Linked DNA regions of Homo sapiens. The protein of the gene in region 2 interacts with the protein of the main gene of each other region in a pairwise test. Each region holds a gene or a part of one and is shown on either strand. Other genes may lie near its edges.

Evidence for each region.
Region 1: the proteins of CRKL (region 2) and YES1 interact in binary tests that used the Homo sapiens proteins (3 or more experiments, as listed by UniProt).
Region 3: the proteins of CRKL (region 2) and PDGFRA interact in binary tests that used the Homo sapiens proteins (3 or more experiments, as listed by UniProt).
Region 4: the proteins of CRKL (region 2) and USP53 interact in binary tests that used the Homo sapiens proteins (3 or more experiments, as listed by UniProt).

The regions. Positions count from the first base shown.
Region 1 is NC_000018.10:731,821-740,409, forward strand, and holds part of YES1 (tyrosine-protein kinase Yes), read right to left. Parts: intron 7,992-8,589; coding exon 7,915-7,991; intron 5,142-7,914; coding exon 4,988-5,141; intron 1,146-4,987; coding exon 1,014-1,145; intron 1-1,013. UniProt on the Homo sapiens protein: Non-receptor protein tyrosine kinase that is involved in the regulation of cell growth and survival, apoptosis, cell-cell adhesion, cytoskeleton remodeling, and differentiation.
Region 2 is NC_000022.11:20,926,458-20,935,046, reverse strand, and holds part of CRKL (crk-like protein), read right to left. Parts: intron 1,269-8,589; coding exon 803-1,268; intron 1-802. UniProt on the Homo sapiens protein: May mediate the transduction of intracellular signals.
Region 3 is NC_000004.12:54,295,293-54,300,334, reverse strand, and holds the end of PDGFRA (platelet-derived growth factor receptor alpha isoform 1 precursor), read right to left. Parts: 3' UTR 2,090-5,042; downstream 1-2,089. UniProt on the Homo sapiens protein: Tyrosine-protein kinase that acts as a cell-surface receptor for PDGFA, PDGFB and PDGFC and plays an essential role in the regulation of embryonic development, cell proliferation, survival and chemotaxis.
Region 4 is NC_000004.12:119,206,857-119,216,289, forward strand, and holds the start of USP53 (ubiquitin carboxyl-terminal hydrolase 53), read left to right. Parts: upstream 1-5,856; 5' UTR 5,857-6,017; exon of another isoform or gene 6,018-6,362; intron 6,363-6,377; exon of another isoform or gene 6,378-6,683; intron 6,684-7,213; 5' UTR 7,214-7,366; intron 7,367-9,433. UniProt on the Homo sapiens protein: Deubiquitinase that mediates 'Lys-63'-linked deubiquitination of tight junction proteins, such as MARVELD2 and LSR, and which is involved in the survival of auditory hair cells and hearing.

The DNA.
Region 1 (8,589 bases), on a different chromosome or scaffold from region 2:
GCTGGGCGTGGTGGCGGGTGCCTATAGTCCTAGCTACTCGGGAGGCTGAGGCAGGAGAATGGCGTGAAGCTGGGAGGTGGAGGCTGCAGTGAGCTGAGATCGTGCCACTGCACTCCAGCCTGGGCGACAGAGCGAGACTCCATTTCAAAAAAAAAAAAAAAAAAAAAGTCTCTTAATTTTGAAAGGGAAACACTTTCATTTTTCCTCTTTATTAATGGCAGATATATTTATTAAAGTGCTGGTTTATAAATAGGTTAGAGAAATAAAACAAGAAAAGAATCTCAAAATAATCTACTGAAGAAAACAAGGCAAGTACATATTTAAAAAAATATACCATGATGGGCACGGTGGCTCACGCCTGTAATCCCAGCACTTTGGGAGGCCTAGGCAGGTGGATCACCTGAGGTCAGGAGTTCGAGACCAGCTTAGCCAACATGGCAAAACCCCATCTCTACTAAAAATACAAAAAATTAGCTGGGTGTGGTGGTGGGTGCCTGTAATCCCAGCTACTTGGGAGGCTGAGGCAGGAGAATTGCTTGAACCCGGGAGACAGGTTGCAGTGAGCCAGACTGTACCACTGCACTCCAGCCTGGGTGACAGAGCAAGACTGTGTTTAAAAAAAAAAAAAAAAAAAAAACAAAACACCAATCACACTACTGGGAAAGAACAGTTATTTAGGGTATAGGGTGGATGAGCCAGGATATTTAAGATATGTTTATTATCTGAGAGAACAGTAAGAGGCCCCTTTGGAAAATGTCCTGAGAAAGCTGAGGTGAATGTGGGGCCTATCTCATGTGCTCACCCTGTCAAGGATCGTGGCTTTCACTGACTTACCCGTCCAATGCCACAGTTACCCATCCAATGCCACAGTAAAGGGAAGGAGTGGGGAGAGGGAGAGGCAGGGGGACTATGAGAAGAAATAAAGGCCTTTTCCCCGCTTACAATTCTGTTCCTAATAAACTCCTGATAAAGCCACTCATGAGATAACCAAGAGCTATAAAATGCAAGCTTACCTGGATATGGCACTCGGCCCTTTGTTACTAGTTCTGTTTGCAGAATTCCAAATGACCAGACATCAGACTTTATTGTAAACCGACCATACAGTGCAGCTTCAGGAGCTGTCCATTTGATTGGAAATTTTGCACCTAAAATAATGTTGACCATCTTGCTTAATTGTTTTTTAAAAATCTATTTGTGTAAACATAGCATATGCAGGGCTAATGTTCTGTCAATATCTCTACTGTAGTCATCAGTGTCAATTCTTTAAATGTACAAGATACATGGGATAAAAATTCTTTAATTTTTAAAATTCATATTGAAATAAATCACATTTCTTCCTGATTAGACAGCTGATGATATAAAAAATAAGTTGGCTGTGGGAACAGAAAACAATTTAAGAAAATAGAGGTTGAAGCTCTAGTAAGCCAAAGATACATGTTATAATATGTGTAACTTTTAAGTACAGTCTGGCACCTAATAGCTGTAGTTAACTATTGGTTGATGAGTGAATATTCTATTGAGTTATAATGTTTATGGGTTTTCCTACTTTTTATATCATTCTGGAAAATTTTATTGTACTACTTTTAAAAGTCCATGTTAATTAACTCAAATACTTACTGTATATCTTTTTTGTGGAGGGCATTATGCTAATCACTATGGAAACCTAAAAAGCATGGCTTTCGGCCGGGCGCGGTGGCTCAAGCCTGTAATCCCAGCATTTTGGGAGGCCGAGGTGAGTGGATCATGAGGTCAGGAGATTGAGACCATCCTGGCTAACATGGTGAAACCCCGTCTCTACCAAAAATACAAAAAATTAGCTGGGCGAGGTGGCAGGAGCCTGTAGTCCCAGCTACTCGGGAGGCTGAGGCAGGAGAATGGTGTGAACCCAGGAGGCGGAGCTTGCAGTGAGCTGAGATTGCGCCACTGCACTCCAGCCTGGGCAACAGAGTGAGACTCCGTCTCAAAAAAAAAAAAAAAAAAAAAAAAAAAAGCATGGCTTTCATGAAGTTTATAAACTTATTGCAGAAATAATATTATAGGTGTCTTACATTCTTTAAGTTATTTATATGTGTTTGTAGATAGTGTTTTAAAACAGAGTTCTTTAGATATTTAGACAAACAGATGATCAATTTTCCTTGGCACCATTACAAAATGTTTTATTTAAAAAGTGGCAGGTGGTTGGGCACAGTGGCTCACGCCTATAATCCCAGCAATTTGAGAGGCCGAGGTGGGCAGATCACCTAAGGTCAGGAGTTCAAGACCAGCCTGGCCAACACGGTGAAACCCTGTCTGTACCAAAAATACAAAACTTAGCCAGGTGTGGTGGTGCATGCCTGTAATCCCAGCTACTCGGGAGGCTGAGGCAGGAGAATTGCTTGAACCTGGGGGGCAGAGGTTGCAGTGAGCCAAGATCATGCCACTTCACTCCAGTCTGGGCAAAAAAGCAAAACTTGGCCAGGCGCGGTGGCTCACGCCTGTATTCCCAGCACTTTGGGAGGCCGAGGTGGGCGGATCATGAGGTCAGGAGATTGAGACCATCCTGGCTAATACGGTAAAACCCCGTCACTACTAAAAATACAAAAAAAAAAATTAGCCGAGCTTGGTGGCAGGCACCTGTAGTCCCAGCTACTCGGGAGGCTTAGGCAGAATGGCGAGAACCCGGGAGGCAGAGCTTGCAGTGAGCCAAGATCGCGCCACTGCACTCCAGCCTGGGTGACAGAGTGAGACTCCATCTCAAAAACAAAACAAAACAAAAAAAACCAGGAGCAACTACAACATACAACATCACTAATCATCAGGGAAATGCAAATTAAAACTACAGTGAGACACTACCTTACTCCTGTAAGAATGGCCATAATGAATAAGTAAAAAAAAAAAACAATAGATGTTGGTGTGGATGTGGTGAAAAGGGAACATTTTTCCACTGATGGTGGGAATGTAAATTAGTACAACCACTATGGAAAACAGTATGGAAACTCCTTAAAGAACGAAAAGCAGAACTACCATTCAATCCAGCAAACCCACTACTGGGTATCTTCCCAAAGGAAATGAAATCAGCCAGGTGTGGTGGCTCACGCCTGTAATCCCAGCGCTTTGGGAAGCCAAGGCGTGTGGATCACCTGAGGTCAGGAGTTTGAGACCAGCGTGGCCAACATGGTGAAACCGTGTCTCTACTAAAATACAAAAATTAGCCGGGCCTGGTGGCAGGTGCCTGTAATCCCAGCTACAGGGGAGGCTGAGGCAGGAGAATCATTTGAACCTGGGAGGTGGAGGTTGCAGTGAGCTGAGATTGTACCACTGCACTCCAGCCTGGGCAACAGATTGAGACTGTGTCTCAAAGCAAAAAAAAAAAAATCATTATATGAAAAAGATACATCCACAAATGTTTATAGCAGCACAATTCGCAATTGCAGATATGGAGCCAATCTAAATGACCATTGACCAATGAGTGGATAAAAAAAAATGTGGCATATATACACCATGGTATACTACTCAGCCGTAAAAAGGAATGAAATAATGTCTTTTGCAGAAACTTAGAGCTAGAGGCCATTATTCTAAGTGAAGTAACTCAGGGATGGAAAACCAAATATTGTATGGTCTCACTTAAAAGTGGGGCTAAGCTATGAGGACACAAAGGCATAAGAGTAATATAATGGACTTTGGGGAGTAAGGGGGAAAGGTTGGGGGGTGGATAAAAGACTACATGTTGGAGGTGAAACCCCGTCTCTACTGAAAATACAAAAATTAGCTGGGTGTGGTGGTACGAGCCTGTAATCCCAGCTACTCGGGAGGCTGGGGCAGGAGAATCGCTTGAATCTGGGAGGCGGAAGTTGCAGTGAGCCGAGATCGTGCCGCTACACTCCAGCCTGGGCTGGGCAACAGAGTGAGACTCCGTCTCAAAAAAACAAACAAAAAAACCTACATATTGGGTACAGTGCAAGATGCTTGGGTGATGGGTGCACTGAAATCACCACTAAAGAACTAGTTTCCCAAAAACTATTGAAAAAAAAAGTGGCAGCTAAATTAGGCCCTAAAGAATGGTTAGGATTTTCACATGTAAAGATTACAGGCCGGGCATGGTGTCTCACGCCTGCCATTTTAGCACTTTGGGAAGCCAAGGCAGGAGGACTGCTTGAGCCCAGAAGTTCGAGACCAGCTTGGGCAACATGGCAAAACTTCGTCTCTACAAAAAATACAAAGAATTAGTCAGGCGTGGTAGTGTGCACCTGTAGTTCCAGCTACTCAGGAGGCTGAGGTGGGAGGATCACCTGAGCCCCAGGAGGTCAAGGCTGCAGTGGGCTGAAATCACGCCACTATACTCTAGCCTGAGCAACAGAGGGAGACCCTATCTCGAAAAACAACAACAACAACAAACATTACAGATAGGAAGGCATTCCAGATGGAGGTAACTGTACAGAAGTATGGAGGTTGAAAGAAAGCACTATGTCTAAAGCAGGGTTTCTCAATCTCAGCACCGCTACCATTTTGGGCCTGATAATTCTGTTGTGGGGGGAAGGGGGGGTTTGCCTGCACATTTCTGTACACTGTAGGAGGTTCAGCAGTATACCTGGCCTCTACCCACTAGATGTCAAGCAGTAGCCCCCAGGTTGTAACCACCAAAAAAGTCTGTAGACATTGTCAGATGTCCCCTGGTGAGTGGCGGTACAGGGCAATATCTCCTCTGACTGAGAACCTCTGGCCTTTCTAGGAAAGAAATTAAAATATATTTGTTGTCATGTCAAAAGAAGTGTAAAGAGGCTACTACTTGCTCTATGTATAATGCAAAGGATACCTAGTCAAGTTCTTTCTTGGAGGAAATAACTATCAGAAAGCCACAGCAGTACATGATTTTATGAATGAAATCAATGTCTCTATGACTCTTCTGAGGGAAGCTAAAACAATTCTTATTCTGGAAAACCCTGTATAGTCAAGAGAGTTAAGCAAAACACACAACACATTACAAGCTTTTATGTAAAAGTAATTTTACCTTGTCTTGCTGTGTATTCATTGTCTTCAATTAACCTTGCTAAACCAAAGTCTGCTATTTTGCACACAAGATTTTCTCCTACAAGAATATTAGCAGCCCGAAGATCTCGGTGAATATAGTTCATTCTTTCAATATATGCCATACCATCAGCAATCTTGGAAAGAGAAAAACAAAAAACACAAGACATACGATACAAAGGGAAGCAGAGAGAAGACAATTATGGTTAATATCAAATTGTGTCACTGAAAATCATATTATTTTAGAAGGAGATGATGGTAACAGGGTATAGTCTAGAAGATAACAGGAAAACCAGAAAACATAATAAAAATGCAGGCTAAATTCAGATTTCAAAAATCTAACACTGGCTGGGTGCGGTGGCCCACACCTATAATCCCATTAATTTGGGAGGCCGAGGCAGGTGGATCATTTGAGGTCATGAGTTCGAGATCAGCCTGGCCAACACGGTGAAACCCTGTCTCTATTAAAAATACAAACATTAGCTGGGTGTGGTGGCACATACCTGTAGTCCCAGCTACTTGGGAGGCTGAGGCAGGAAAATCACTTGAACCCAGGAGGCAAAGGTTGCAGTGAGCCAAGATTGTGCCACTGCACTCCAGCCTGGGAAACAGAGCGAGACTCAGCCTCAAAAAAAATAAAACCTAACATTACTCTGAAGACCAAGATTAACCCTCCTAATGTCTTCTTGTGTCTGTGGTTAGGAGAAGAGGTAAATCACAAGGTAATTTAGTACCTCTGGATACAAGCTCATCAAGGTCTCTATCAGGCACAACCTAAGATGACATGGTGATAAAGGTATTAACCACAAGGTATAGGTTCCCAAACTACAGCTTGTAGGCCAAAAGTGGCCTGCAGCCTGTTTTTGCACAGCCAGAGAACTAAAACTGTTTTTTACATTTTGATTGATTGACTGAGACGGGGTCTCACTCTGTCACGCAGGTTGGCGTGCAGTGGTGCAATCGTGGCTCACTGCAATCTCTATCTTCTGGGCTCAAGCAATTTTCCCACCTCAGCCTAGTGAGTAGCTGGGACTTAGGCATGCGACACCACACCCAGCTAATGTTTGTATTTTTTTGTAGAGATGGGGTTTCACTATGTTGCCCAGGCCCCGCAAAGCGAGATTATAGGAGCCATCTCGCACAGCCTGGTTTTTACATTTTTAAAGGGTTGTAAAAAGAAAAAAGTATGACAGATTGGATGTGGCTCACAAAACCTAATTTTTTTTTTTTTTTAAAAAACAAAAATGGATTGCCAACCTCCCCTACCATAGAGTGTCTAACTCAGAAGCATGAACTGGCGTGGCATATGCCTGTTGCCTATGTATAGTTTCTCAGTATAAAGCTTTTCTGAATTGTCAGATTCTGTGGACATTTGGAGGCTAGGAGGTAAGATTCCAAAACCAGCATGTCAACCAAAGCCAATAATAAGGCCTCTCAAATACCTACCACATATCTGAAGAGAAACTTTTAACAGTTTTCACTATATATTTAAAACAAAAAGTCAGAAGAGTAAAAAAGTCCCATTTTAAACTGTATATATACCATCTTAATTCTTGTGTTGGACTATAGTAAATAACAAATTCAGGCCAGGTGCAGTGGCTCACGCCTGTAATCCCAGCACTTTGGGAGGCCGAGGCGGGCAGATCACGAGGTCAGGAGATCAAGACCATCCTGGCGAACACGGTGAAACCCCGTCCCTACTAAAAATACAAAAGATTGGCTGGGGGTGGTGGTGGGCGCCTGTAGTCCCAGTTACTCGGGAGGCTGAGGCGGGAGAATTGTGTGAACCTGGGAGATGGAGCTTGCAGTGAGCCGAGATTGCACCACTGCATTCCAGCCTGGGTGACAGAGCGAGACTCCCATCTCAAAAAAAAAAAAAAAAAAAAAATTCAGCATACACTTTAGATTACTAATATTTTCTTTGGAACAGCCCTCATCCATTTTAATTTTCTTAAAATTATCTGTTGAAATATAAATACATATAGACTTTACATTTGTGGAAACATCTATTTTCTTGAGATGGAGTCTCGCTCTTGTTGCTCAGGCTGGAGTGCAATGGCGAGATCTTGGCTCACTCCAACCTCCGCCTCCCGGGTTCAAGCGATTCTCCTGCCTCAGCCTCCTGAGTAGCTGGGATTACAGGCGCCCGCCACCACGCCTGGCTAATTTTCAGTATTTTTAGTAGAGACAGAGTTTCACCATGTTGGCCAGGCTGGTCTCGAACTCCTGACCTCAAGTGACCCACCCACCTCGGCCTCTCAAAGTGCTCAGATTACAAGCGTGAGCCACCGCACCTGGCCTGGAAACATCTATTTTCTAAGAAACCGTATGATACAGGACACCACTGGACTAAGAGTTAGATAGCTGGTTCTAATACTCGTTCTGTTACTAACAAGTTTTGTGAATTTTAGATACCTCTCATCTTTTGATACTTCATTAATCTGTATCATTAAGAGCTCACATTGGATTATCTCTGACGTTCCTGCCAGTTCTAAAATTCCATTATTGGCCAGGTAATCCCAATACTTTGGGAGGCTGAGGTGGGAGGATCCTTTGAGCCAAGGACTTTGAGACTAGCCTAAGCAACACAGAGAGATCCCTGTGTCTACAAAAAAAATAATTTTTTAAATTAGCTGGGAATGGTGGCCTGTGCCTGCAGTCCTAGCTACCCAGGAGGCTGAGGCGAGAGGATTGCTAGAGCCCAAGAATTCAAGGCTCTTCAAGCACGGAGCTATCAGTGCACCACTGCATTCCACCCTGGGTGACAGAATGAGACGCTGTCTCTAAAAAATAAAAAATAAAAATAAAATCCCACCATTTCACTACACATACTATAATATTCTGGTAAGATTATTCCACATTTTAATTTACACTTTTAATTCAAATGGATACATGTATATATACAGATACCTGAGCAGCCATATCAACCAGCTGTGGAAGCTTCAAATACTTTCCATCTCCTTCCTTAAGGAAATCTAATAAGCTTCCTGTAACAGACAGCAAGATATTCATAAAAAATAAGCAAATCTTATATTAGGATTGAAATGAATACTCCTCCACCCCAAATCACAACACAAAACTTCTTAGCTTTTCATTTTTTTTAAATTTTGTGCAGTTTTGCAGTTTCCAAATAATTATCTAGGTCCTAGAAGAGGTCTCTAAGCTGAAATTTTGAAAACTTCTGATAACACATGCAAAAAAAGAAAATGCATTAACTTTACCTGACAAGAGGCATTTTTTCCTCGCTTTGATCAATATCCCAATTCTGATTCAAAAAGTAGTATTAAATACTTACATATTTTTAAGTAAATCTGAATCAAGAATTCAGACAACTAGGAATATCTTGGGTGTGGTTAAAACTAAATATAGGTAGCTAAATGAGTCGCTGTGGAACTACTGCTGTGACCAAGCTCTCTCTCTGAAAACTACAAAGTACTATGAATAACAGCAAAGAAAAAGGCTAGAAGTCTGATTACGGCTTCACTATTATTTGTTAAGGCTTATAATCAAGAGAAAACATCACACAAAACCAAATTAAGGCACATTTAAAACATAAAAGTGGTCTATTCTCTTCAGAAGTAACAA
Region 2 (8,589 bases):
GTCAGGAGATCGACACCATCCTGGCTAATACGGTGAAACCCTGTCTCTACTGAAAATACAAAAAAATTAGCCAGGCGTGGTGGCGGGTGCCTGTCGTTCCAGCTACTTGGGAGGCTGAGGTAGGAGAATGGTGTGAACCCAGGAGGTGGAGCTTGCAGTGAGCGGAGATTGAGCCACTGAACTCCAGCCTGGGCGACAGAGTGAGACTCCATCTCAAAAAAAAAAAAAAAAAAAAAAAAAATTCATTCCTCTACCAAGCTCAAGAGAAATTCTAAGACATTTTCATATTTCTCAACTGATTCCAATGTTAGAAATACAGAACCATATATGTTGATTTTGCCTCTAGGTCATGGGTCTTCCTTAATCATTATCTTTCCTTACTGGAAGAAAAACCAACAACTGCAAAACTAAATCTGTTAGGCTTTGGGAACAAGAAAGAGCAAGAAGGCTGAGAATTTGGGGCAAACAAGGAATAGGACAGAACAAAACAAGCTGTGAAACACTAATAATGGGCCAGGCATGGTGGCTCACATCTGTAATCCCAGTACTTTGGGAGGTCGAGGTAGGAGGATTGCTTGAGGCCAGGACCTCGAAATCAGCCTGGGCAAACAACTCTTTTAAAATTAGAGACCTCGTCTCTATAAAAAAATTTTAAAATGAAACGCTAACAGTGCGTATCTTCCAAAATCATCCAGTGCTCTAATTCCATGAATATAAGCTTAAATGAGCAGAAACTAAACTAAAACTAAAAATTAAAACCAAATGTCAAAGGACCCAAAAAGCTAATCTGAACAGATTTTACCTCTAATGCCAAGGCAGTCTTGTCATAAGCACAGGGTACTCTTTTCTGGATTGCTTTCGCAAAGACAGGTCCATTCTGTGTGGATGGCAAAGGGGTGATTGCTGCCCCAGGAGAACCGGAAACTGCAGGTAGAGGAGTTGTGGTCTGAGGTTGAGCGTATGCATGAGCAGGTTCTGGGATCCCATAACTGTTGGAATTCCTATTTCCATGCTTTCCGTGTGGTGAGGATCTCACAAGCTTTTCGACATAAGGGACAGGAATCATCCCAACCCGGCCATCCTTGTTCCGGGCACTCCACCACTGTTCTTCAGGCTTCTCTATTATCACTAGGATCTCACCCTTTTTAAAGGGCAGGTCTTCGGCATCATTCCCAGGAAAATCATACAGAGTCCGTACATATTCCAGGTTATCTTCTGCTGTAGGCAGGTTGGGTGCTGAGACAGATCCCATTGGTGGGCTTGGATACCTTAAGAGAGAAAGAAAATTACTCTAAGAGAAAAATCTTACTCTAAGCCAGTGCCTGTCAAACTTCTTAATATACCACTCTCCTCTATAATAAATTATTTTCCTTTTTTATGAGACAAGTTTTGCTCTTGTCGCCCAGGCTGGAGTGCAATAGCGTGATCTTAGCTCACTGCAAACTCTGCCTCCCAGGTTCAAGTGATGCTCCTGCCTCAGCCTCCTGAGTAGCTGGGATTACAGGCGCCCACTACCACGCCCAGGTAACTTTTTTTATTTTTAGTAGAGAAGGGGTTTCACCATGTTGGCCAGGCTGGTCTTGAACTCCTGACCTCGGGCGATCCACGCACCTCGGCCTCCCAACGTGCTGGGATTACAAGCATGAGCCACCATGCCCGGCCTCTACATTTTTTTTGGAGATGGAGTCTTGTTCTGTTGCCCAGGCTGGAGTGCAGTGGCAGGATCTCAGCTCACTGCAACCTCTGCATCCCAAGTTCAAGCAATTCTCCTGCCTCAGCCTCCTGAGTAGCTGGGACTACAGGCACATGCCACCACGCCCCGCTAATTTTTTCTATTTTTAGTAGAGACGGAATTTCACCTTGTTAGCCAGGATGGTCTTGATCTCCTGACCTCGTGATCTGCCTGCCTCGGCCTCCCAAAGTGCTGGGATTACAGGTGTGAGCCACTGAGCCCAGCCTTTTTTTTGGAGACAGAATCTTGCTCTGTCACCCAGGCTGGAGTGCAGTAGCGCAATTTCAGTTCACTGTAACCTCTACCTCCCGTGTTCAAGTGATTTTTCTGCCTCAGCCTCCCGAGTAGCTGAGATTACAGATGTGCAACACCATACCCAGCTAAATTTTGTATTTTTAGTAGAGACAGGATTTTGGCATGTTGGCCAGGCTGGTCTCAAACTCCTGCTGGCCTCATGTGATCCACCCGCCTCAGCCTCCCAAAGTGCTGTCATTACAGGTGTGAGCCACCACGCCTGGCTTTATTTTCCTTTCTATATTCTTAGTAGTTAAGAAGGTTCTATCATGTTGTAATTTTTGTAGTCTGTACTGTCCCAAAAGTTACTATTCTGAATGTCTTTTCAAATTACAAGTATACACACACACATACACTCCATCTCTGTTTTACAGAAACCTTTTGATTACACAGAGATACCTGGTTTAAATTTATTTTTATAATCTCAAGTAAGTTCGGAAGCTGCCTTCCTTTGGACCCTTGTCACAACCACCACACACTCTTCCTCCCAGTCCTAATCTATGGCTTACATCCTGCACACTTCCCTGGACACACAGAAAATGACAAAGGCCTCTGCCTCTGGCCTCTTGAAAAAAAAGGAACAAAAAAGGGCTTACAGACTTGCCAAATTAAAAATAATAAATCCACCAGGCGTGGTGGCTCAGACCTGTAATCCCAGCACCTTGGGAGGCCAAGGCAGGCAGATGACTTGGAGACCTGCCTGTCCAACATATCAAAACCCTGTCTCTACTAAACAGACAAAAAATGAGCCGGGCATAGTGGCACACACCTGCGGTCCCAGATACTCAAGAGGCTGAGGCAGGAGCATTACTTGAGCCCAGGAGTTAGAAGCTGCAGTGAGCTATGACTGCATCATTACACTCCAGCCTGGGCAACAGAACAAGACTGTCTCAAAACATAAATAAATAAGAGGCCGGCGCAGTGGCTCATGCCTGTAATCCCAGCACTTTGGGAGGCTGAGGTGGGCGGATCATGAGGTCAGGAGATCGAGACCATCCTGGCTAACACGGTGAAACCCCGTCTCTACTAAAAATACAAAAAATTAGCCGGGCATGGTGGTGGGTGCCTGTAGTCCCACTTACTCAGGAGGCTGAGGCAGGAGAACGGTGTGAGCCCGGGAGGCGGAGCTTGCAGTGAGCCAAGATTGCACCACTGCACTCCAGCCTGGGTGACAGAGCGAGACTCCGTCTCAAAAAAATAAAATAAAATAAAATAAAAATAAAAATAAATAGCTAGCAAGAGTAGTAGGAGCAAGAGTAATAATAAAGAGCTCATACTTATTATCTATGCTAGGCATGGTTTACGATCTTTGAAGAGATTGGATTATTTAATAGTCTGTGAGGTAGATGCTGTTATTATCCCCATTTTACAAATGAGGAGCCAAAGAAGAGGTTAGACTTGCACTCAGGGAGTCTGGTTCTAAACTCTTCACTCATAATGAGCTAATCAGCCTTAGGGACGAACCCTGCATCTGTCAGGTGTATGAGAATTAATGGCATAATGCATGTGAGGCATTCAAAATTACCGAGCAGCACCAAGCATCCAATGTACCGACATGAACACACACATACCCCTTCAAGTATATCCCTGCTTCTATTTCTTTCTCTTTTTTTTGAGACAGGGTCTTGCTGTCATCCTGGCTGGAGTGCAGAGTGGCACAACCACAGCTCACTGTAGCCTCCACTTCCCAAGCTCAAGTGATCCTCCCACTTCAGCCTCCTGAGTAGCTGGGACTACAGGCAGTTGCCATCACACACAGCCAATTTTTAAATTTTCTGTAGAGATGGGGGTCTCACTATGTTTTCAGGGCTTGTCTTGAACTTCTAGCCTCAAGCAATTCTCTCGCCTTGGCCTCCCAAAGTGTTGGGATTACAGGTGTGAGCCATCACACCCAGCCCCTGCTATTTCAAGAGCCACAGAGAGCCTGTGAACAGTCCAGTAAGTACCATATAAATTTCAGACACTATTAAGAGCACAGTCAGTTCCACCTTAGACTCCATCCAAGAGTATTTTATTATTTGTATAGTTAAAAGCAGTTAGCCAGTGTGTGGTGGCTCACGCCTGTAATCCCAGCACTTTGGGAGGCTGAGGTGGACGGATCACAAGGTCAGGAGATTGAGACCATCCTGGCTAACACGGTGAAACCCTGTCTCTCTACTAAAAATACAAAAAATTAGCCAGGTGTGGTGGCACACGCCTGTAGTCCCAGCCACTCGGGAGGCTGAGGCAGGAGAATGGTGTAAACCCGGGAGGCGGAGCTTGCAGTGAGCCAAGATCACGTCACTGCCTGAAACAGTTAAGACTCTATCTCAAAAAAAAAAAAAAAAAAAAAAAAAAAAAGCCAGGCGTGTGGTGGCTCACGCCTGTAATCCCAACACTGGGAGGCCGAGGCGGGAGGATCACTTGAGGTCAGGAGTTCAAGACCAACCTGGCCAACATGACAAAAAACCCTGTCACTACTAAAAATACAAAAGTTAGCCAGGTGTGGTGGCGTGCGCCTGTAGGCCCAGCTACTTGGGAGGCCGAGGGAAGAGAATTGCTTGAACCTGGGAGGCAGAGGTTGCAATGAGCTGAGATCACACCACTGCACTCCAGCCTGGGTGACAGAGCAAGACTCCATCTTAAAAACAAACAAAAAAAAGAAGATAGCCAAGCCCATTCATTTACGTATTGTCTATGACTGTTTTTCACTACAAAGGCATAGTTGAGTAGTTGGACAGAGACTCTATGGAAAAGCTGAAAATATTTAAAATCTGACCCTTTACTCAACAGTTTGCTGATCCCCCATCTAAATTCCTGGGTTAGGGAGGCAAAGTGTGCTTTTCAACTTCCTTGCTTCCCTGGTGAGGGGTATGTCTGTGTAGAAATTTGATAAAGATAGTTTCTATTTCCCTCCACTACTATACTGCTATAGTGACCTTGGGGCTCATTTTCTGTGTTAGTATCTGCAGAGATATTCATAAATTTGACACCAAATCAATCTCACCAGCCATAACCCTGACACAAATTCCAAGTCCTCTGCCCTATATTCTCAAACTCATTTATTCATCAAACTCCCCTGAAAATTACACATTAGTTCCACTGAAGAGATAAATACATGTTGCTCCATGTCAGATATCTTAGCCTTTCCATTAGACCCCACTGTCTAAAGAAATATGAAGCATATTCATCAGAAAATTTATTGCTTCCCAATTATTTGTTCTTTGAGCAAGGTTGAAAATAGCACCCTCCCCCAACTTCCCTTTAAAATATAAAGTGTTGCCCAGGCGCAGTGGCTCATGCCTGCAATCCTAGCACTTTGGAAGGCCGAGGCAGGTGGATCATGAGGTCAGGAGTTTGAGACCAACCTGGCCAACATGACAAAACCCTGTCACTATTAAAATACAAAAATTAGCCAGGTGTGGTGGCGTGTGCCTGTAGGCCCAGCTACTTGGGAGGCTGAGGCAAGAGAATTGCTTGAACCCGGGAGGCGGAGGTTGCAGTGAGCTGAGATCATGCCACTGCACTCCAGCCTGGGCGACAGACAGAGATTCCGTCTCAAAAAATTAAATAGATAAGGCAGGTGCAGTGGCTCACGCCTGTAATCCCAGCACTTTGGGAGGCCAAGGCGGGCGGATCAAGAGGTCAGGAGATCGAGACCATCCTGGCTAACACAGTGAAACCCCATCTCTACTAAAAATACAAAAAAATTAGCTGAGCGTGGTGGCAGGCGCCTGTAGTCCCAGCTACTCGGGAGGCTGAGGCAGGAGAATGGTGTGAACCCGGGAGGCAGAGCTTGCAGTGAGCCGAGATCGCGCCACTGCACTCCAGTCTGGGTAACAGAGTGAGACTCCGACTCAAAAATAAATAAATAAAATAAAATAAAATAAAATGCACAGGGTTTTCAAGCCCATCCAAACACCCTTGACCATGCTTCTCACTTTTTGCCTATTGTCCACTACACACTTTGAGCAGCAAAGCCCCTAACAACTAATTCGTAACTGACTTTTCTTTTCTGATGATAACGAATCTCTCAGCTCTTTTGGTTAAAAGCGTTCTCAGTTTCTACATGTATAAACCATACACAAAACATCTTTAAACCAAGTGCTAATATGTTCTAAGCTTAAAATCTCCTTATGCATGCTAAGAACCAATACAATCAACTTCTAGAAAAAGGAAGTTTCAAAGGTGCTGGTAATATTCCTTTTTTTTTTTTTTTTTTTTTTTTTGAGATGGGATCTCGTTCTGTTGCCCGAGCTAGAGTGCAGAGGCACAATCATGGCTCATTGCAGCCTCAACCTCCAAGGCTCAAGCGATCCTCCCACCTCAGCCTTCTGTGTAGCTGGGACTACAGGTGCATGCCACCACATCCGATTAATTTTTGTATTTTTGGTAGAAACAGGGTCTTGCCATGTTGTCTAAGCTGGTCTTGAACTCCTGAGCTCAAGCAATCTTCCCACCTCAGCCTCCCAAAGTCCTGGGATTACAGTCTGGGCCACCACGCCTGGCCAATGTTTTATTTATTTATTTTTTAAAGGGAGCACACAGATGATAGTTTTTTTTGGCTTGTTTTGTAAATTTTTTTGAGATAGCGTCTTGCTCTATGGCCCAGGCTGGAGTGCAGCAGTACGATCATGGCTCACTATAGCCTTGACCTCCCAGGCTCAAGTGATCCTCCCACCTCAGCCTCCCATGTAGCTGGGACTACAGGCATGAGCCACCATGCCCAGCCAATCCTTGTTTAATTTTTTGCAGAGATGGGGGTTTATGTTGCCCAGGCTGGTCTTGAACTCCTGGGCTCAAGCAATCCTCCTACCTCAGCCTCCCCACTATTTGGGACTACAGGTGCATGCCACCACACCCAGCTTACATATACTTTTTTTTTGAGACAGAGTCTCACTCTATTGCCCAGGCTGGAGTGTAGTGGTGTGATCTCAGCTCACCAAAACCTCTGCCTCCTGGGTTCAAGCTATTCTTGTGCCTAAGCCTCCCCAGTAGCTGGGATTACAGGGCCCCACTACTGCCGGGCTAATTTTGTATTTTTAACAGAGATGGGTTTCACATGCTGGCCAGGCTGGTCTTAAACTCCTGACCTCAAGTGATCTGCCTCCCTCGGCCTCCCAAAGTGCTGGGATTACAGACATGAGCCAACGTGCCCAGGCTTACTCTTTTTCCTTTTTTTTTTTTTTTTTTTTTTTTGAGACAGAGTCTTGCTCTGTTACCCAGACTGGAGTGCAATGGTGCGATCTCAACTCATTGCAACCTCCACCTCCCGGGTTCAAACAATTATCCTGCCTCAGCGTCCCAAGTAGCTGGGATTACAGGCATCTACCACCACGCCCGGCTAATTTTTGTCTTTTTAGTAGAGACAGGGTTTCACCACGTTGGCCAGGCTGGTCTCGAACTCCTGACCTCAAGTGATCCACCTGTCTTGGCTTCCCAATGTGCTGAGATTACAGGCGTGAGCCACGGCACCCTTACTCTTTTCTATGTATGAAATATTTCACAGTTAAAAAAAAAAAAAAAAAGGTAGAAAACTTAATTCCAGCTGGGCGTGGTGACTGGCTCATGCCTGTAATCCCAGCACATTAGGGGGCCGAGGCAATTGGATCACCTGAGGTCAGGAGTTTGAGACCAGCCTGGTCCAATATGGTGAAACCCCATCTCTACTAAAAATACAAAAATTAGCCGGGCATGGTGGTGGGCGCCTGTAATCGCAGCTACTCAGGAGACTGAGGCAGGAGAATCACTTGAACCCGGGAGGTGGAGACTGCAGTGAACCGAGATCATGCCACTGCACTTCAGCCTGGGCGACAGAGCGACACTGTCTCAAAAAAAAAAAAAAAAAATTCAATTCCAAGATGAGCTAAGTACTTCTCTAGTGAAACTGCTTTAACCACCATTCTTTTTTTTTTTTTTTTTTTTTTTTTGAGACGGAGTCTTGCTCTGTCACCCAAGCTGGAGTGCAGTGGTGCGATCTTGGCTCACTGCAATCTCTGCCTCCCAGGTTCAAGCCATTCTCCTGCCTCAGCCTCCCGAGTAGCTGGGACTATAGGCGCACGCCACCATGCCTGGCTAATTTTTTATATTTTAGTAGAGACAGGGTTTCACTGTGTTGGCCAGGCTGGTCTCGAACGCATGAGCTCAGGCAATCCACCTGCCTCCGCCTCCCAAGGTGCTAGGATTACAGGCGTGAGCCACCATGTCCAGCCAGTAACCACCATTCTTTATCACTGACCAGCATTTAATGCCCAGGTCCCCTCCCTTCTGTCCCTGGGCTTTCAGGCCATCACTAATGGCTCCTCCTCCTATGCTTGTGGCTGCCTCTCCTTCCGCAGCTTCTCTTTCTCTACTTATTCCTGTTCTGCCTCCTCATTCTGGGTGATCCCATCTAAGCTGCGATTCCCAAATCTATATGTATTCAGCCCTTACCTCTCTTCTCAATAACAAACCCATCAGATTGCTAAATACCACCTGGCTTCCAGCAGGTACCTCAAAGAAAGATTCTTCCTGTTGAAAAGAATCACGCACCCACCCTAATCCCTTTCTCTTGTCTCAAAGGCACCACTCAATCCTCTCTGAAG
Region 3 (5,042 bases), on a different chromosome or scaffold from region 2:
ATGGATCCCTGTGGTGCCAGGCAGGAATGGGCTGCTTGGGGACTCAGCGAGCTCCCAGGGCCTTTCTGCTGCTTCCTCCACCCCTGTATTTTGCTCAGCTCTCTAACTTGACTCAGCTTGAGGTAAAGTCAGAAACTTCTCCCGCAAGCAAAACTTCAGCTGCTCCAGTGGGACTGCGCATTCGGTAGAGGAGGGTCTCCCTGTACCACTTCCGCATTTGGGGCAACTCACAATATTTGGGGTGTCTCCCCGGTCCTGCAGGAGAAGTCCACTTCCATCAGAGGGTCTGTGGGTCCTCTCAGGATCTGGAGCTAAAATTCACAATGCAAGCTGCTGCATGCTGCTCTGTCCTGAGCTGCAATCTAGTCTTGCCTCTCATATGCCATGATCTTCTGAATCCCTCCTTGGAGGTTTAACTCCAAAGAAGTATGCTTCCAGCTGCAGGCTACTTGAATTTGGATAAGGAGTTATATTGGAATAGGGTGCTATATTCTGATTATTAACAACATAATCAATTTTCATTATCCGTGAGCTCAAAATAAGGTGAGTTGTACCATTTTTTTAAATTCCTAAAGTCACTTGCTTCAGTATGCTTCAGAACACAAAACCCACATTCTCTCACACTTACCACATTGTATTTCTTCCAATCCTATTTTGAAGACCATGATTCCTGGGCAATGTGGAGCAGAGACTAGAAAACTGCATGTAATGTGCAAAGCCAGTGATTCACGTGCAGATGCTCAAGAACTTATGTATCAATCCTATCTGAAGACTTCAGCTCAACATCAATTTATTTCTGCACACCCTTTGGCCTAGCAATTTCATTTGTAGAAATCCATTCTACAAAACACATTTTTGTATGCAAATATGTATGTTGCAAAAATGTTCATGAAATCATTTTAATAGCAAAGAACTGGAAACTATAAATCCATTTTACAAGACCATGATTGCATAAATTATGGTACATTTACATAATGGGATCCAATGGAGCTAATACCTCTGTATACTTTTCACAGAGATCGCTAAAACAGCATTAAAAAAAAAACAGAACTGTGGACTGTGTTATGGGTAATGATTTGGCAATGTAGGTTCATCAGCTGTAGCAAAGGTGGAGAATGTTAGTGATGGAGATGCTATGTTGGTGTGGGGGCAGGGCACACAGGGGAAATCTCTGTACCTTCTACTCAATTTTACTGCAAATCTAAAACTGCTTTAATAAATAGTTTTAAAAAGGAAAGAAAAAAGAACATTACAAAGGATTACATAAAGTGAGAACCCATTTAGGTAGATATGAAGCAAACGTAGAGATGTGTGTATGGGAATATATATACACAGATGCATACAAAGGGAACTGGAAGTTTAAAAGACACACCAAGTGGTGCAGCTCTGCCTCTTGGAAACAGGACAGGGACAGGGAAGAAGACACGGTGAAAAAAATAATTTAACATTTTACTTCCTACACTTTTACGACAGTTGAATGTTGTACAGAGTTACTGCAGTCCTGTATTCCTTATGCAGGGGAAGAAAACACCACAGGATAAAGATGAACAATCAAAAAAATGATGAGACCAAAGATGAGCCAAGTGCCAATCATCTTTAAGTCAAATACTGTGTCGTGGAACAATCTAGCTCATATAATGTCTTAAACCTTAGATATTCTATTGGTTCATCAAAAGCCTAATAAAGGCCAGGCGTGGTGGTTCACACCTGTAATCCCAGCACTTTGGGAGGCCGAGGCAGGCAGATCATCTAAGGTCAGGAGTTCGAGACCAGCCCGGCCAACATGATGAAACCCCCATCTCTACTAAAAATACAAAAATTAGCCAGGCATGGTGGCAGGCGCCTATAATCCCAGCTACTTGGGAGGCTGAGGCAGGAGAATTGCTTGAACTCGGGAGGCAGAAGTTGCAGTGAACTGAGATCACGCCACTGCACTCCAGCCTGGATGACAAGAGCAAAACTCCGTCTCAGGAAAAAAAAAAAAAAGGCCTAATATAGAGTCCTACAAATGTTGCTAAGAAAGTAAATAGAACAGGATTGCTTTAATTCTTATGATTAAACTAAAAACAAAAATGCTGAAACCTTAGTATAACTTTAAATTATATATCATTTATTGAAATATAAAGATCTTCATTTACACGTTTTAAAACAAAAACATGAACAGGGGCATTCGTAATACATTTTGTATTGGTAGACCCTATCAAGTTAGTTTTTCTCACACATTCACCACACCATTGTTTTGGGAACATGTAAGTATCTTTCTTTTTATTATTTCTAAAATATAAATTTTGGACATTCAAAAGTGCAACAGTTAATGTGCCTGTGGGGATTATCACAGTTAAAAAAATATAAACGAAGGCAGTGATACAGCTTGTCATAAATGTTTTGGCAGTATTCTCCAAGTCTATATAGAAATACATATATACATATTGATGTATAACATCATTTTATCTTATGTCCCTCTTCACAAAAATAGGACCATTTTGTACAGATTGGCAGACCACATTTTAAGGACATCACTAATCGTTTAAAAAGTCACAAATAGTGTTTCTCAGGCCGGCTTTGATTGTCATCATAAAAATAGAAAGTAGGAAAGATTGGCAAATTTTCTTCTGGAGACTTTGCAGGAGGCCAAAAGGAAACAAATCTGGAATTTGCTGAAAACACACACACACACACAAATGCAGTCATATACAAATTCAGGTGGGAGCATTTGTTAGGACTGGAAACTGCTGGACTGAGAAGTTTCATCCGGCCTCATGATGTCATGCAAGGCTCACAGCAATATCAAAATGCAAAGCACCAACAAAATAAGGCTGTACAAGGGAGAGTGAGCGATAAACAGAATGCTTGAGCTGTGATTCTAGAAACACAAACGTATTTCAAGTCTAATTGGCTCTACAGAACCTAGTCAGGTTTTCGTTTTTAATTGGCCAATCTGGCTCAGTCTTCGCACTTACTATGAAAAAGTTGGATAAGAAAGTTGGGGCTTGCATTGAGATTACACCAGTAGGTAGTCAAGTACTTTATTATTGCTTCTGCATCTTCCAAAGCATCATCTGCCGATAGCACAGTGATTGCAGTAATCACAGCCCATGTTTCATTCATATGGTATCAGCAATTAAGCAGTATTGCAAAGAATGCCAATGAACCCACACCAACCTGTTTGACAGTGTGGATAGATGTGACAATTCATCCTCCCATCTAACCTCAAATTATCAGTAAAACTTAAAATGTTTTTTCCACCAAAACACTGAGCTGGTTACACAGAGACTTGGAACACTGAATTGCATAATTTTTGTACATGCCTTTCCTTGGCGGGGTATGGAGTGGGAGGCAGAAGACGGGAGACGGGGAAAGTTCAATCTCCCCCATACAGTGGGAAGTAGCATCTTTACTTTTGGAAAACCTGTCAAAACCAAACTTTAGCTTTCTCAGCCTCAGCTAAGACTGGAAAGTTAAATTAAGGTCGCAATTGCTAGCTAGATGGCATTAAATGTCACTAACCTGAAGCCAAGGATTTAAATAGTAGGCTTCCTGCGTGGTTGAATGCCAACCCTGTTCCAAAGTTCAAATTATTTGTTTCCCATGGCAACTTCCTGAAACCTAAGTCAGTGTTTCCGAAAACTGGCCGATCAGAACAGCCAGGGAGTTTAGAAAAATACAGACTCTGGTTTCCCTCAGACTTCATACTTCAGAATCTCAAGGATGGAAACCCAGGATCTAGTCATCCTGGCTGCCACACACATTTGAGAACTGAGGATCCAGGCTAATGCACATCCAGCCTCCACTAAAGAATATCTTTATGGTCTCGAGTTTCAAACTCTTTCTCTTTGGGGTAAGGGGTGAAAGAAGGAGGCTGATGTCTGGGCATCCTTCTGACCCTTTTCAGGTTCATAGATTCAAAAAATACATATATTGGGGTCGCCAAAGCTTTCATCAGGCATGAAGAAAAAAAAAAAAAAAACTTCTGCAAATCCAGTCTTTTTGCTGATCATTATATTTTCCATTGGGTAATATACATGAGAAGTTATGTTCAGCACAGGTTTATGCCTCTACATTGAGAACTTTTAGGACTTAAGAGTTTTGTTTGTTTCTAATCCCATTATTTCAGAGGGCAGTTAATTGTTTTTTAATACGATGGATTGGGGAACCTATTCAGTACAGTTAAAAATTCTGACTTCCTGGACAACACTACTTTTACTTTGTTCTCTATGCTCAACTAAATTTAATTCACTAAAGCTATTACCATACTTTATAGAGAAACATGTTATTTAATATAAATGTCAAAAACTGTCAAACTCATCACCTACTTAGTAAGGATTGTTTTAAATTGTGCTTTCTCTGGAGGGAAATCATGTTACATTATTACACATTTAGCATTACTGATAACAGTAGTAGTATTATAAACATAGATTACAATATGAAAATGAGTTGTCAGGCTTCTAAATGACCCAAATCTATTAAACAAGGTTGGTTAATTATTATTCTTTATCTCTTTAACACTAAAAAAGATAGCAAAATGCTATAGTACCAGTACCTTTTAAGGTTCAAAAATGGTTTTTCATGCACTTCTTTAAAAAGTTCAACAGCAGCTGACATCAGGTTTCAAGAGGGAAGTACATGGATGGATTGAGTGGTCTCTTCAGAAGTCCAAAGAAGATAGTTAATACAATCTAAACACAGCCTTGGTTAGAGTTATTTACATAATTACAATGCTGAAGTTCTGTCGCAGTATAAATTGTGTCTGTTGGACTCTCACCAATGTCCTTGAAGCACAAAGTTCACCTTCTGTGGCCTATTATTCCCTTATCCATCTATCTCCAAACTTCACACACCACTGAGATGCTACTGAGGCATTGCAAGAGGCAACACTGACAAAGTTCATTTCAAAATATCCCATTCATTCATATTTAGAACGCTCCCCGAGGCCCTTGGCTGGGAACTTCTCTTTAAACATCAACCAAGTCCTCCTCTCAACCTCTGCATTGCAATAAAGTGGTTTTCTGAACGGGATCCAGAGGTGGCCCCAGAAGTGGAAG
Region 4 (9,433 bases), on a different chromosome or scaffold from region 2:
TGAAACTTCAAAGCAAAATAAGATACTTAAAAGAAATGAAGAAAACCAATGATGGGGTTGCTTGTGCTCTGAGACAGCATAAATATTTGTGTCCAAAAAAGAATAATGGCATTAAGATTTGGAAAACCTGGCTTCCTATCACTTTATAAAAGAGAAATAAATTAAAAATCAAGTATTTTGAACATAAACTAATATTGGTTAACAAAGTGACACAATTGCAAAACAATCTTATTTAAACTATCCTGATAAGAAAACAGTGTCTGAACTATGGGAGGAAGTAATTTCTCCAAACCACAATTGGGGTAATTGCAAAAATCTGTTTTTATTTTTGGGCACCACATATTTTTCTGAAGTTGACAAGACAGCATCTTGAATTCAGTCACATGGATGGTATGTGAGGCTTGTTACTGCATTTGCCAGGAACATGTTGATGAAGCCATTGTCAGTGAACATAGATAAGAGTCTCCTTAGATACAGGCTCACATGGGGGAGAAAAGCATTTTAAACGATGACAGAAAAATGTTTTCCTGTTACTGATAACTTAAATATCTCATTCACTTTTGGTTTTAGAACATAGCCAAACTGAAGTTTAAGTTACAGGCTCATGCATATATCTGTTCTTTTGCTCTCGCTCTTTACCTTTTACTCTTATTTTAATTCCTGATAGCTCTGATTGTTTTTTCTTATTTATGTTTGACCTCCATTTTTTATTATATGCCAGAATTTATTTAAAATCATTTAAATCATTTGTAGGATGAGGTGAAGTACTGTATAATAAATGAATGAATATGTGGATTAGTGTAATATTTACTAGGCTTTCAAAAATCGTTGCTAGAGTGGAGTATTTTAGCTTAAAAACACAAAAGATATTTTCAGTGTTAACTACTATCTTATGAAAAAGGAGAATATAGATTTCTGTTGTTTCAAAGGACAGAAATAAGGCTAGTATGTGGAAATTACTAGGAGATAGATTCCAACTCATTGTGATGAACATTTTTTTGAGTTAGTCTTAAAAGGGCAATAATAGGCTGCCCTGCAAAGCATTAGGTTTTCTATCACTGTTACCATATTTGAACAGAAGCTGATAGCCCACTGGTGAGGATGATCCTCCATTGAGTGGGAGGCTGGACCAGATGAAATCTAAAGCTTTCTGTACTTTTGAGATTTTAATTAAATACATATCATTGTCATCAATGATAATGGGATTCTATAAGAACATTTTTTTTTTTTTTAGTAATCAGCATTAGTAATCATAATAATGGCACTAATGGCCATCATAACCTAGTGTGGGACTTTACAGTTGCTTTTATCTAGGGCCTTATAAAAAGATATTTGTATAAGTATTTCTTCTCACCCCAATTTTAATGATAAGAAAATTAGAATGTTTCAATGTGAAATAACATACAAGGGTAATGAAATTGCCTACGCTGACCCTAAGTCAGCAAAAATTAAAGAGGCCACTAGTTAAACCACTAGCAGTGATTTACTAGCAAATGTTGACCTTGTTATGGCAGAGCCTTAGAAGGTCTGGGATGGATGGCCAGAAAAGTTTCAGCCAAGTAAGAGCTAGCTAAGATATCATGGATATTGAATTTGAACTTCCAGTGTTTAACAAAATGTCATGCTGCAGAGCTTTAGGAATCCAGTAAATACTGAAGTCCAGAATTCCTTGTAAGAGGAGAGAGGATCCTCAGGAACTCTCTCTCTCCTTCCCACTTCATCTGTGCCTTACTCGTTCAGACCAGCTACTTTCAATGACAAGGCACATTACTATAGCAATCACTTAGAGACCCATGGGAAGAATGTTCTAGGCCAGTAATTCTCAACCTTGATCCTACTGACATTGGGGACTAGATAATTCTTTGTTGTGGGAGACTGTCTTGTCCATTGTAGGATGTTTAGCAGCATCCCTGCCCGCAACTGTGACAACCAAAAATGTTTCCAACCATTGCCAAATGTCCATGGGAGAGAAAACCACCCCCAGTTTAGAACTAGTCTTCCAGACATAGAGAATAGAGAATGCAAAGCCTTGAACAGCATGAGATGTTGTTGCGGAAGCAGGAACAGATCATTCAGGGGTCTATAGGCCTTGGCAAGAATTTTGGATTTTATTCTATGTGAATGAAAAGTCATTGAACAATTTAAGTTGGGGAGTAACATGTCAATATTTTTAAAAGACTAATTGGCTGCTGTGTGGGAAATAGATTTAAAACCATGAGGATAAATGACATCTCAGGATCAGGCACTAAGGCACATCAACATTTAAAGCAGATTGAAAAGTACAAGAGAAAAGGAGGCTGAGAAAGAGAAGCCCATGAGGCAGGATGAAAGCCATAAAGGAATGATGTCACAAGAATTGAGATGAAGATGTCAAGGAGGGAGTGGTCAATTGTGACTAGATTTTTCTGGTTGACTCATCCCTGAGTCACAGCCTAGAGATTTCTCTTCTTGCCTAGCTATAGTTTCCCCTACAGTTCTTCTGTACCTTATTCCAAATGAATCATTCTGCCCCAGAACTTACAAAGGCTTCCCATTGTAGTCCTGTACTGGCCTTGTTCAATCCTGTTTCTAAAACTTTGCTCTTTTAAGTTACATATCTTCCTCAATGCCTTCAAATACACTTGCTTATAATCCTTCCAAGCTGAAGTTCATATTTGATCTCCCACAGAAGCCCTCTCCAACTTTAGCCCACACAGATGACTCTATTCAAAAAAATCAACAAAACTTCCAATTTTTACTCCATCCAATAAACACTGCTTGTTAAGCATCTGTGCTAGGCACTGTGCTATGCCTTGGAAACATGAAAAAACAGAGAGCTTAGGTAGTAAGGAAATTCACTTGTCAGTCCTTATGGATGCATTTAGGAAAAAAAGGATTCTGTCTAGTATCTAACCCTGAGTCAGTCATTGATCTACTACTTCCCTATGCTATATTTCACTCTACCCCACCCAGCTCAGTCATGGTTAAGCTGTTGATTACCTCCTGGAACTACTGGGTTACAGCTCCGCAGGACACAATGTTGCTATTCCTACCAGACATTAGTGGCAGGGTGCATCTAGCCACAGGGTAGCACATTTCTCAAAGTCTGAGTTATAATCAATCCAGAATAACACTAAGAGGTGTGTATATGTGCTGGTGGTGTGAACTTTGGCTAAGCCTCAGCTGAATGATCTAGGGTATTCTTTGGCATGCCAAGCCTGCTCCCTTTCATGATCTCTTTGCCTGTGTGAGGTGCAGAGATTGGTCTTCACAAATTTGGGTCCAGCCAATCAGAAACTAGGGAATCAAACCCACACACGTCCCTCAAGGACAAATAGTAAGAATTAAAATATTTTAAATCCTTGTTGTGACTTTCCCAATTACAAATTTTCTGGGAGCAACAGCTGTCCTGCAATGTCAATTTTCCATTTTTTCATGTTTGCTTCAGACTCTGCCCTCTTGATGCTTAAATTGGGTCCTATTACAACTCTACCATTTAAGGATCGGTACATAGATATGCTAAAAACTGGTAGAAAGTATGAAATTATATAATTTTAAAAGTGTATAGTCAGGGTTTAGTCAAATTCTTGAGCAGGGTGAACTGAAGGGTATTCTTCTGTAATTGCTAAATAAGGAAGGGAGGTAGTATAAGCCATTATTATCCACAGTTCAAATTATTTCTCAAGGGTGGAGGTGGGGGTTACTCTGTCAGGTACATTTGCAGAGAAATAAATATAGTACAACATAATTGTTATAAAAATAAGTCCCAAAAGGGATGACAATTTTGTCTCAGAAAGTTATGAAAAGATCCATGGAGATAAGCATTCGAGAGAGAACCAAAGGATCTTGAGAGAACCAAGAACATAGAAAGCAAGGACTTTAGAAAGATTAATGTGGAGGAACTGGAGGAAGAATGGCGATGAGTTTAACAGTGTGATCATGAAAGGCCCTGCCGGTGGGTAATGAAAAATTCTTAGCAGAGAAGTATAATGATCGTATTTTCACGTTAGAAAAATTATTAATAGAATGGAGGTTGGACTGGTGTGGGAAATAACTAGAGGATATCTTGTGAATATTGCAATAGTACAAGGAAGATGAGTCATAAGAGATGGTGATTACTTGAAGGACTAAGACAGTGAGAGTGGAGGGGTGGACCTGAGAGATACTTAAGGAAATAAGAGTCAAAATTTGATATTAGAAAAGAGGAAATGAAGGAAAAGTAACAGGGGTACTCATAGATTTCTGACTTGGGCAGTTGCGTGTCATTTTCTGAAACAGGGAATGGAAATGGTGTAGGTTCCAGATGGGTGAAGAGGGACATGGCATCAGGAACAGATTATAGTAAAGATGTCCATGTCAATTTGGGACATATTTAAGATACTGTGTGAAATCCAAAGGATGTTGCTTAAAAATGTCCGACGTATAGATATACACCTGAGAGTTCTTGGTGCACAGGACACGTGGTAGGTAAATCCATGATGGGAAAGAGACTGCTCAAGGAGACATGGATTAACATTAAACAGAAACAGCAAAAGAAAATGGAGTGCTGGCGAACAGAGACCACGCAGCGGAAAAACAGTATTTAAAGTGCACCAGAAAAGTAGCTGCAGAATGAGGAGAAAATGACATTAGAGAAACGGAGGGAAGAGTTAATGGTGTGCTCTTATTGTTTTAAAAATGCAGAGTAGGATCTTTTTTTCCCCCACCCCTCCCAAAGTTTTTAATATTTTGAGGGCAGAAACCACGGCTTTATTTCATCCTATTTCTGACAGTGCCTAGTTCAGTAAAGGGAACATAGTAAATGCTCAATAAATTCTTAATGATTCAGCCTCAGACATTACAAACGGGTCCTATTTGTCTCCTGTATCAACGACCAATATTTCTTCCCCCTCTTTCTTCAAATAAACTTTTAGAAGTGCCTCTGGGTTTACTGAAATCCATTTTTACAATTAGTATGTTCAACTTACACCAGCTTTGGAATGAGTTCCAAAACCTTCTTTATTTACTTGAGAGATATTCGGTATCAGTGACGATGGGTTTTTCCTTTACTACTATTCCTAAGAAAGGTTTATTCAAAATCAAAGTTTAGCCCAATTCCCAGCAGTACCTTTTAACTTAAAACCTGTTCGAAAGCACGGCAAAGAGGCGGACAGACTTTTCTGACAATCATTAACCAGGTCAACAGACTTATTAAAGCTATCTAATTAAAGGCAAGAAACAACTGCTTGGGGAATACACATTCACGCCACAGGAAGCCATTTAACTGCAAATAGATCGTCTAACGACTCACGGAAATCTAAAGGAAACTGCGTGTCCGCATGGGGTTCTGATGCCAAACTACGGATTGTTCTCTCAGGTAACACCTAACCTAAGTGAAGTCCTTGGTGGATCCGCGTTCTTGAGCTTAGAAAATACCGAATGAACTACCAAGAGCACCAGAATAATCGCCTCCTCCTGAAGAACTAGCCTCTTTCTCACCACACCAGACAGCACGTCCTACAACCACCTTTCCCCCAACAACCAAACTCCAGCGCCAAGCTGCCGCTTTTGCAGAAATGTTCTATCTCTTGGTCTCGCGCGATCTCGCGCCTCCGAGGAAGCCAACTGTATCGCGCACGCCATCAAATCCCCGCGGGAATAGAATTCCGCAGGTCCAGAAAGCCGGGAAATCGCGAGCGGAGGCGGAGTTACCTCGGTGAGCGTGAAGGCGGAGCCCGCTCCGAGGGGCGGGCTCGAGGCGGGGAGAGGGGCGGGGCTCCAGGGACCTGTTGATCGCAGGTGTCACTGGCCTGACTGGTCCCTGGGTATTGGGGCGTATGCGCATGCTCCGCTCACAGGGTCGGGCTCTGGGCGGCGGAGACCAGCCGCCTGTGCTCCAGTTCCCGGTGAGCCTCGGTACTGTGGCAGCAGTCAGTGTGTCTGGCGGGTGTCGGCGTGAAGCGGGGCTGGGCCAGCGGGAGGTAGCTCTGTGGGAGTGGAAGGCCTGTATTTCTCTACCTGGACCGCACGCTCCTCGCGCAAGGAGGGTAGAGCTCAAGGTAAGTCTCCGAAACTAGCCCTCTGGTTGGAGATCCAGAGACCTGCGACCCCCGCGGGCCTGACCGGGACACTCTCATTCTAGCCCCAGAGCTCGTCTCTCCCCTCGCAGCCCGGCGACCTCCTATGGCCCCGGCCCTCTGGGCACACACACACTCTCTTTGCTGGGCGGTTCAGACGCCAGAGGTCACGCAGCCCTTTCGCCCCTTCTCGCCGCGTCTGGCGGAGATGCCTCTGGCCAGGCTGGAGGCGCTCGCGAGGCGGGAGGAGGTGCTGTACTTGTTGGGTCCTGGATGTTATTGCTGCCGTGTTTGAGGGCGGCGACAAGCTGGAGTCCTGCTGGGATTGTGAGTAATACCCTTACTTGGCTCCTGCCCCTGGCTGTCCAAGCCACATTGCCTCGCCTGAGCACACAGTTTTTTACTTAAAGGGGTCCAGGATGGTTATGCTCCCTCCTTGGAGAAGAGAGATGACTGGACTCGTGAGATTCTTGGGGTGGTGGTTTCTCAGTGGTAGTGGTGATGTATATAAAGTTAATGTTTAGCTTCTAAAGGGCGGCTTACGGGGCATTTACCAAACTATTTTTAAACAGTGTTGGAGAACAGGAAGTACTTGCACAGGTGTAATAGGGAGGGTTTCTAAAACCTGCAATCTGAGGATGTTTTGAGGTTTGTAACCCTGCTACAAGGTTTTCTTTATCAATGCAAAGTATGCAGGGAATTACCAGTTGGACAGCAAAGTTTTCCGAAAGTTTCCTTATCTGGAAATAGATATATATATATATATATATGTGTGTGTGTGTATGTATGTATGTATAAATATATATATTTGCAAAGAATATCTAAGGCTATTTTTGAGGTAGGTTTAATAGTAAACTTAACCTGTAGTCCCAGCTACTCGGGAGGCTGAGGCAGGAGAATTGCTTGAACCGGAGGTTGCAGTGAGCCGAGATCGCGCCACTGCATTCCAGCAGGGGCGACAGAGCCAGACTCCGTCTCCAAAAAACAAACAAACAAACAAAAAAACGCAGTACACTTAGGAAGGTTTTTGTGATTAAGATCTGATTCACTTTTAGTTATTAAAAGAAAAGGCTTGCTGATTTTCACTATTTAAAATGAGTAGCAAGTGCTAACACAAAATGTCTGTTGGAAATGAACTTTTAGTTACATTGATAATTGTTATTTTCTGTTCTTTTCAGTTCCGTGATGATGGTCTAAGCAAAGACCCTTCGTCCTGTTAAAGATAAATTAAAAAAAAAAAAAAAAAACCAAAGGGAACAAAACTTACTCTGCAAAAGTAATATATGATTTACCTGCTGTTGTCATAAGAATTCCAAATAGACAAACTCGGTGTAAGTAGGAGTTAATTATAGTCTGAGAAATAAGGTTTTTGTTTTGTATCTCAAAGGCTTTTAAAATAAGCTCCTTGATACAATTTGTGCAGGTTCGTGTTTACTGGTGATAAACCATGAAAGTGATTTATTAAGATTTTTTCATTAATGAAACTGGGAGGTTTGTGTATTTCTTCCTAACGTGTAAAAAAGAGACTAAGAACTGGCCTTTCCTTTTTCCTAAGAATTTTAACAAATATTTTTAAAAATGTATGTAGATTGTGTAAGTTCATGGAATTTGATACTAATAATCAATTCGTTAATATTTTCACTAAACAATGCATAAGATAGTTTTAAAAAAGATATTTTAATGGGAAGGTAGACTTTTCCAACTAGTGTATTCTTTTCCTTAAAAAAAAAAAAAAGAAAAATCACAATACTCTTAAGACCTGCCATATGTGCTGTGATTCAAGTTCTTTTATATTGTTTAATGTTAGATGTTTATTTTAAACTGTGCAGTATCAAGAAATACAACTTTGGTACCATATGGTTTACAAGTTTGTTTTAGCAAGACAAAGTTTAAAAATGAAAATTTTATCTCATTTAAGGTTATATGTAGCTTTAAAAGCCAAAATCAGAATTATTTTCCCTCCTGGAATTGTTTGGAACTCTCTTACTTACTGGGGTAGGAGGGGGTACATTGCTTTACCCTACAACTTTCCGAAAACACAGTTGATCTTTATAAAGTGATGGAATAAACTATCCTACAAAGATGTTTGGTTACTAAAATACTTAGAAGATCCTTTTTGACAGCTTTAACTGTAAGGTATTTCTTGTAGAACTCAAAAACAACCTGTAGAAAGTTGGGTAGTTTATATATTGCATCTGGAAGCATTTTTAACACAGTGTGCTAGGTGTGCTAGGGCCAAAATGATTGCCAGTTTCGCTTACTCTGCTCATGAGCTCTTGTTTTAAGGAGGGAAGTATGCTGATTTATGTTATCTTTGCAGAGCTAGGTAGAAATTAATGATGTTACAAATATAGTATTATTATATTGTTAATTTTATACTGATGATTTTAGAAAATTTTGCATTATGGTATTTGCACATGATAGGAACAAGAAACGGATGCAACCTGCTCTACTACAAGTAAAAATCCTCAAAGGTTAAATTTTAAATAGCTTTATGTAATATTGTAATCTTTGCAGGTTATACATTTTTTAAAATTAATAATAAGAATACCATAGATACCATGTACAGTATATAGAATATTTAGGCAAATAATATTCTGTGCTCTTCCAGGTTAACTCATATCCTCTATCAGGAATTGTTGAACCAAAAGCCCATGATTAGAACTGTGGTCTGTGGTTAGAATTGAGTTTTAATATAATTGGTTTTCTTTGTGATCTTAGTATTTTTTTTTCTTTTTCTTTTTTTTATGCTATGAATTTTATTTTGTTCATTTACAAACATTATTCATAGGGGGCTTCATTAGGCCACCAAAGATGTCCATGATACAAGAAAAGGCTACAAACCATTGCATCTGGCTAAAGAATTATGATTTTACATGAGACTTCAGAAGAGTTGCTTCATATACTCTGCAGTTCATCAGAATTTTTTCTGCAAAATAAACCTTATTCCAATATCTTAGCTATTTTTATGAACAAAATCAGTTATTTGAGGTGTCATGGTATTTTTGAATTAATTTGAAGATAACATTAGTTTTCAATTTTACACATATTACAAAAAAGAAGTTTTAAGAAATACCCTTCCTTTGGAAGTTTTTTACTGCTGCGCTTTTCTGAGTTAGAAGTATTGAATAAACATTATTGACCTCCTATTGTATGCTAGGCATAGTGCTAAACACTAGAAAGTCAAAAGTTAATTAGACAATGTTGGCTGGGTGCTGTGGCTCACGCCTGTAATCCTAGCACTTTGGGAGGCTGAGGCAGGCGGATCACTTGAGGCCAGGAGATTGAGACCACCCTGGCCAACATGGTGAAACCCTATCTGTACTAAAAAATACAAAAATTAGCCAGGCGTGGTGGTGCACACCTGTGGTCCCAGCTACTAAGGAGGCTGAGGCAGG